Homo sapiens: one gene and its partner. The protein of the gene in region 1 interacts with the protein of each later gene in a pairwise test. Each region holds a gene or a part of one and is shown in the gene's direction. Other genes may lie near its edges.

What was found. The genes of interacting proteins can lie anywhere in the genome.
Region 2: the proteins of BFSP2 (region 1) and ZNF343 interact in binary tests that used the Homo sapiens proteins (3 or more experiments, as listed by UniProt).

Annotation. Positions count from the first base shown.
Region 1 is NC_000003.12:133,402,912-133,406,659, forward strand, and holds part of BFSP2 (phakinin), read left to right. Parts: intron 1-3,748.
Region 2 is NC_000020.11:2,506,991-2,510,738, reverse strand, and holds the start of ZNF343 (zinc finger protein 343), read left to right. Parts: upstream 1-1,823; 5' UTR 1,824-1,858; exon of another isoform or gene 1,859-1,939; intron 1,940-3,748. UniProt on the Homo sapiens protein: May be involved in transcriptional regulation.

The DNA of each region.
Region 1 (3,748 bases):
GGATTACAGGAGTGAGTCACCATGCCCAGCCTGGAGTTACTTTTTCTATATTGCACAGCCCAGCCTTTCAGCCATATTAAACTCTATTCCATCAAGAAGAACAAAAGAAAACTCCATAATTGAGAAATGCTCCTGATTTTTTCAGTGAATCTGGCCTCGTGGAGCTGCAGGAGGCCCCCACCAGGCCCCCACCCCTTTCCAGGCCTAGAGGAAAGGCCACCTCCCAGCCCAGTCCTTCCACAACACGCTGCCTTCATCTCACTTGGGGTCAGAGGCAGCCACTCTGCGGTCCTGGGCCCCAGAAATCCAGAGCTCTCTCCCTCTGCCCTCACTTAGGCCACTCTGGCTGGGGCTTCATGCCCACCTTTCCAGACTCTGGGCTCTGGTGTTCCGTGCTCCTCACAGCACTCCTTACCCCTCCTGTTTCTCCACCTGCAGCTGCCTCTTCCCCCCCTTGTCCACAGAACTCCTCCTGGTCCTGCAGCTCAGTTCCATGGCAACCCTCTGTGACTCCTCAGGGCCCATGCAGGGCCTGAGGCCTCAGAGCAAGCTCTCAGCAACTGAGCCCCAAGTTGGCACCTAGAGAGAAATTCGACCTCCTTAGCCTGGGCCCCAAACAGAGAATCCAAGAGAGACCTCAGTCACTCAATAGCACGGTGGGGATGTCCATTTTGGTGGCACTTTCTTGGATCAGGCTGGAGCAAGCAGTGGGGAAGGTCAGAGCAGGCAACAATTTCCATAAATGTTTGGGAAACAACATTTCCTCTTGCTTTCAGAGGGGGAGAAGAGTTGGAAAGGAGACAGGCTCTCCTCCCTGCCATCACCACCCCAGCTAGCACAGAAAGCTCCTGGGGCCATTCTGGGGAGTGGGGGTCCCCTGTCCCCTGGAATCTCCCCACAGCCTGTCTCACCCCCACCCAGAGGAGACAAAGACAGGTTTTCAGAAAAGCCAGGAAGAGGAGCCAGGAGGAGGGAAACAATTGCTGTCACTGTGCAGAGAGTCACATCATGGAAAGCAACACGAAACTAGGGTGCCAGGAGGGCTCACACCATGGCAGAATCAGGAAGGCCGTCCTGGGGAGGGGGGAATCTTCCTCATCCTTATATCACTATGTAAGTTTGGGGCCAGGGTTGGCTCCATGGGTGCACCACCAGTGAAGTCTCATAGGATGCTGCACTGGAGTGCAGCGATGCCATCAGAGATCACTGCAACCTCAAGCTCCTGGCCTCAAGAGATCCTCTTGCCTTGGCCTCCCAAAGGGCTTGGATTATAGGTATGAGGCACCGTGCCCAGCCAATAGTTTTATCTTTGAATTTGTGTTTTAAAAGTGAAGTCTTGTGGGACAATGGAGTATGGACCAGGGGCTCTTGAATGGTCCTACCTCCCTCTGTCTCCCTACAACAGGTTCTTGGCCCACCTCTCTGCCCCTGGGAGCCCCTTCTGACACCTGCTCCAAGCCCCTGGGTGGCAGCAACTGGAGGGAGAGGACAAGCCTCTTGCTCACCCCCAACCCAGGTACCTACAGGTGGCACTGAGGTCGTAATATTCTTGGGGGTTATCACCCCACCCCACCAGCAGGACATGGTACATCGGTCCAATGGCCGGTAAGAAAGGTACCGCAGCCATTGGTGGGGTATGCACATGCCCAGAATCATGGAGCGAGGCCTCTGGATGCCTATAAAGGTCTGCATGAGCATCCCCATTCCCCAGGGAGTGGAAATTAAATAGCAGATAAAAATTACCATAACAAGTTGAAACATGACAGAAGAAAGGAAAAAGCATTATATTTGAGTAACTTAAATCGCACTTTGTTCCTGCTCTTTGAACATGGGGCCCCACATTTTGCACTGGGATCCGCAAATTATATAGCTGGTCCTAGTTAGGGTTCATGCATATGAAGTTCTGTTTCAATTCCAAACCTCTCTCCTCCCACTCCTCAGCTGTGTTAGAACCTCCAAGCCTCGCTAAGTGGTGAAAACGGACAGAAAAACCCCAGGTGGCAACTACAGAGGCTGAGGAAGACCTGGGCCATTTCCCTCTCCAGCCTTGCTCTGTGCTCCTGACTTTTCTTACCAAATGAACGATGCTGACAATAGGCTCTGATGGCAACATCAGGCCCTTTCATCCTCAAATAGGCCAAACACAAGCTTGGAATAAGGCAGCCTTGTGCCTCGGAGCTGCAGATGAAAGGAGAGTGGGGTCAGAGGAGCAGCCCTCAGAGACCAGGTGTCAAAACAAAAGGAACAGCTGAAGCCAGGGGGAGAATGAAGCTGCCTGAGGAAGAAAGGGGAGCGCAGAGGTTCTAAATTAAGGAGCCAGGACATTTGTCTAGGTCTCCATGGGAGAAAACTGCAGCTTATACCTCCAAAGGATAAGGCTGTCAGCTGGAGAAAATGGGAAATCAAAATTGTTGAAAGGCAAAGGATTAGAGTTTAAAATGGACCTGATTTGACTATTTTTCCTGCTGTTCACAGCCCGTCTTTCTGTCCCTTGCACAGAGACAGCCCATACTCAGGGAATCTGCCTACTTGAAGAACATGCTGGAAACTCAGGCAATCCAGATCTGGGCCAGGTTTCTCCCACAGAACTTGTGGTCCTAGAAGGCTCTCTTTTTAGAAAAAAAAAACAAGAACTAATCCTTCTCCACTGAGAATAAATAAAGGCAACAGGGTTTGTTGTTCATGATTTACAACCTGGTATCCCTGGAAAGTAGGTGATGGGGGCAGAATCATAATCTGCAAAGGCCTGAACACATTTCCCCAAGAAAAAGTCACTCAGCCTGTTTCTTAATCAGTGCAATTTGTTTGGTCAGAGCAGGCCAGTGGGGCGGTTTCTTTGTCAGCCAAGCTATAAGGGACACTACAGTATGGTTAGAAATGTAGCTACCAGAGAAAAGTCCGTTAGAGAGATTCATTCCTCTTAGGAAGAGTGAGGTATATGATTGGAAGAAATATTTTGATGGGAGAGGGGGAGAAGGAGGCATGAGCCTGCTTCCCAAGGGTCTTGTTCATATAATACAGGTGGCCACTAAGCCTCTTTATTTATTTTTATTTATTTATTTTTTGATATGGAGTCTCACTCTGTTGCCCAGGTTGTGGCGCAATCTCGGCTCACTGCAACCTCCGCCTCCCGGGTTTAAGCGATTCTCCTGCCTCAGCCTCCCAAGTAGCTGGGATTACAGGTGCCCACCACCATATCCAGCTATTTTTTTTTTTTTTGTATTTTTAGTAGAGACAGGGTTTCACCATGTTGGCCAGGCTGGTCTCAAACTCCTGACCTCAGGTGATCCACCAGCCTTGGCCTGCCAAAGTATTGGGATCACAGGCGTGAGCCACCGTGCCCAGCCAGTCACTAAGCTGCTTTCTAAGAAAGGTGGTTTCTGGAAGTTGAATGTGTCTGGAAAGCAAGAGAACTGCTAAAGAAAACAGAGGGAGACTAGGGTGTGGCACTCAGGGCCTCTTTCCATGCCCCTCTCATACACCACACTCGGCCACTCTTAAACCTCTTAAGATCTCTTAAAATGTGAGTTCCATGTTGGGAAATGGAAGACAGGGGGTGGGGTCAGTTTTCCATGAAAACTAGGGAAAATTAGATGTGATGCAAAGACTGGGGATTTTGAAGCCAGACAGCCCCTAGCCTTGCCGCTTGCCATCTACCAACCGTGTGATCTTGAGCCAAGGTCTTCATTGATCTCTGCATCTCAGTTTCTCATCTGAATAATGAGGATGATTAGAGACTTCCTTTGAC
Region 2 (3,748 bases), on another chromosome or scaffold:
TGATTGGTTTTCTGACTGGCAACCAGCAGGACCTAGACCCAACCCCTGGTGTTTCAGTAACAGATTCTGCCCAGTACTAACACGGCAGCCTCCAAGACAAGAGAAGGGAATTGGTCCTTTCTGTGAAAGGCAGGACAGAATATCAAGAAATGTTTGTCTGTCTCCTGGCTCACAACGGCCTTGGGGCCATGTTCTCTATCTCCTGAGTACTGGAGAACAGAGAAGCCTCAGAAGGCTGATATTGGGAAGGTGAAAAGAAATAAGAAGATGGAAGGAGGTGTTGGAGAAAATAAAAACAAAATCTCCTGCTAACCCAGAAAATCCCCTTCACAAACGTAGAAAAGAAGGAGAACAGTTTTATTACCAAATAATATTGAACTGGACTGGGAAGCACATTGTAGACAATCTGCTAATCAGATGCCAGACAGAAAGAGATCTTACTTTTTATCTAGTTGGGCAGATACAATCTATTACAAACATGTCCTCAAAATTAATGGTAATTTGCCCCCTTGTAAGAGGATTTGACATTGTTTGCTATACAATTTTTCATAATTCATTCTAAATTCACCTGGTAATTGGAGTAGCCATCTACACTAGTTAATTGCCTTTATCAAAAAGAAAAAATAAAACTTTTATCTGTGACAAGCGGGCAGTTACGAGTTTGGAGCTAGGCACCTAAGCTAAACTCCCAAGGTGACAGGGAGATAAGGGCACTATCTTCTTCACTGTTTACATTTCAAAGAGATGGCTCATCAGGCCTTTGGGGGAAACATTCCTCTTTTGTAAAGTTGGCAGGTGCTTATTCAGCCTTTCAAAAGTATCAGGTACATATCAAAGGAGCACTTATACATAGATTTCTCATGGAAATACTCCAAGGGCGTGAGGTCAGGTTTATTTCCCCTTCAGTAACAAGTAAAATTTAATTCAATTTGTATTTGCCATTAAGATTTAAACGCGCCTCCTATGAGCTGAAGGTCTGATCTGCAAACCCCTAATTGCCGTGTTGCAGAAGGTACCAGCGTAGCCCAGTTTTAAAAATATTATTAGTTTTAAAATATATACATTTAACTCCTGGGCTCAAGCCATCCTCCAGCCTCAGCCTCAGCCTCCCTCGGGGTTACAGGAATCCCAGGCGCGCGCCACCACGCCCGGCTCTAGTAGCCCAGATCTGAACCGGGATCTTAGATAAGAGGCCAGAGAGCCAGACTCCAGCCTGAGTGAAGCTTCCACCCTCCAGAAACTGGATGAGAGTCTGTCCCTAACTTTGAGGACTTCGACAAGAAAGGTGACTACAGGCCACCCACAGGAGTGCACTGGTGTTGAGGGTAAGGGTTCAACTGAGACGCTGGGAGGCGGCTTTGCCCTGCCTGTGTGTCACAGGCAACACGAAGTCGAATCTACATAGTGCTCACGCAAGGTAGTTCGCGTGCTATGGAGCCTCAGCCCAGGGAATTCAGGTGGTCCGGTGCAGTAAACTCTGTACCCAACACACGCCTGACAGACAGCGCATTGCTCCCGCTAGATTCGCCAATCGGAAATGACTTCTCTCGTTGACCCCAGCTTCCGGAAGCGCCTGCGGAAGCTGCCGCAGAGGCTTGTGGGGAGTGTAGTCTTTTTTTTGCAGAATGGGCCAAGGGGACAGAGACTTCACTCGGGAGCCAGAACCTGTTTTCAACATGGGTATTTTAAGAAGAGACGGAGAGGCTGTCACTGCAGTGGTCACTGTCCTGGAAAAGTAACCGTTGCACGGCCCAGAAGTGGCTCTGTGGCGGCCAATGGGAGCCGAAGCCTGCGAGGATGTTGGGAATTGTAGTTCTGGCGTCGGTCGGTGGCCGAGATCCCGGGCACGCTGGCTCTGGTGAGCGCGGCCTCCGCGGCTCCTTGGCCCCAGGATGCCCTCTCTCGTGGGGAAAGGAGGGTCGGGAAAGGCCGAGCGTAGGTTAGGACGCGGGGTAGAGTGTGGCCAATGGGGAGTGCGGGTTGGAGATATTTGGTTTTTGGAGGAGAGGGCGCAGCTCGCGGTGCTCATTGGGGCGAGGCGATGGGGTGAGCCCCTGCTTGCCCGGACCTCCGCGGACCTTTTTTCCCCCCGGGGGGACGAGAGTGACCTAGAACTCTAATGCCTGTCTTGAACCAGGCGGGATTATTCTGGGTCAACCAGTTTTCGAATACGGAGGGCGGCCCCAGTCGTGCGTCCTGGGGTTTATTTGGGCTGTGGGGTTGAGTTCTGCCAGGGCCAAATGGACCAACATCCCCGCGGCTGGGGTGGGGACGTGGCTAGGTCCGCACATCCCTGGGTGGTTTTTGGCTGGGGAGCGTCTTGAGTCCTGCATCACCGAGTTTTTCTGTTTTTTGGGTGGGGCTGGATATGTCCCGAGTGGTGACCGGGGTGGTTAGGGGGAGGCCGTCTCAGGCCTTGATGCTTGATGGACCTTGGTTTATTAGGGGTTGGGGGGTTGGAAGTGGAGGTGAGCTTGACGTGGTCAAAATATCCTGAGAGGGCCTGGGCGAGTGTCTTGGGTCAGGAGTCCCTGGGGTTTTTAGGGAGGTGAGGGAGGTTTCGTCCTCTGATAGTGGTGGGCTGTATCACTCTGACAGGCATCTAGGCAGCTCTTTTGAATGGGGGCAGGTCTTTTCTCTGGGACCTGTTGTCTCAAGGTGTGTCATGTGGGAGGTGCCCCCTGTGCTTTGTGGCAAAGTTCCTGGGTTTGGTCGTCATCTGGGTGGCCCGTCTGGCTGACTCCTTTCCTGGACTGCTTTTCCCTCACATGTTAGGGCCAAACATCTGGTTTGGGGCTGTGAAGGGTTAGGTCTGGTGGGGAACTCTGACGGCTTCTAGTTAACAATCCAAATCACTTCCGGCATATGGTGAGTTCTGGATATCAGGCGTTTAATTTTATTTTTAATTTTTTCGTAGGGACAAATTTTAAACCTACCTAGTAGAGCTATTCAGTGAACTGCCACGGACCTGTCACCAGATTCCACATTTGTTAACTCATGGCCAATTTTGTTTCATCTACATCCCCTCAACCCTATGTGTGGATACACTTTGAGAATTGTCAGACCCCACAGGGATTGGCCATTGCTGACATCATTACTGGCCCAGCTGGCTAAGCGTGTGGCGCTCCACAGCTAGACTTCAAATCTAGGCACTTTCTAGCATTGTCAATTTGAGGAAGGTGTAGAACTCATGGAGCTTTGGGGAGGTAAAACTTGCATGGTGTCTGGAATTGCCTCTGGTATACAGTAAGAGTTTAGTAAGTGTTAACTATTACTAATAGTATTATAATTTGAGGCCCATAGGCATTAAAGGGATAAATATGTAATAGCAGCTTGTCAGGGCAGACTGTATTCTGATGTCCCCACATGGTTCTGTCCCCTAGAAGCTGTTTACATTATTCTCTTCTCTGACAGATCTGAGGCTTATTTTGTTAAAGGAAAAGGAGGCCTGCTCTTTTTTTTTTTTTTTTTTTTGAGACACAGTTTCACTCTTGTTGCCCAGGCTGGAGTGCAGTGGCGCGATCTCGGCTCACCGCAACCTCCACCTCCCGGGTTCAAGCGATTCTTCTGTCTCAGCATCCCGAGTAGCTGGGATTACAGGTGTGCGCCACCATGCCCAGCTAATTTTGTATTTTTAGTAGACACGGGGTTTCTCCATGTTGGTCAGGCTGGTCTCGAACTCCTGACCTCAGGTGATCTGCCTGCCCCGGGCCTCCCAAAGTGCTGGGATTACAGGCATGAGCCACCG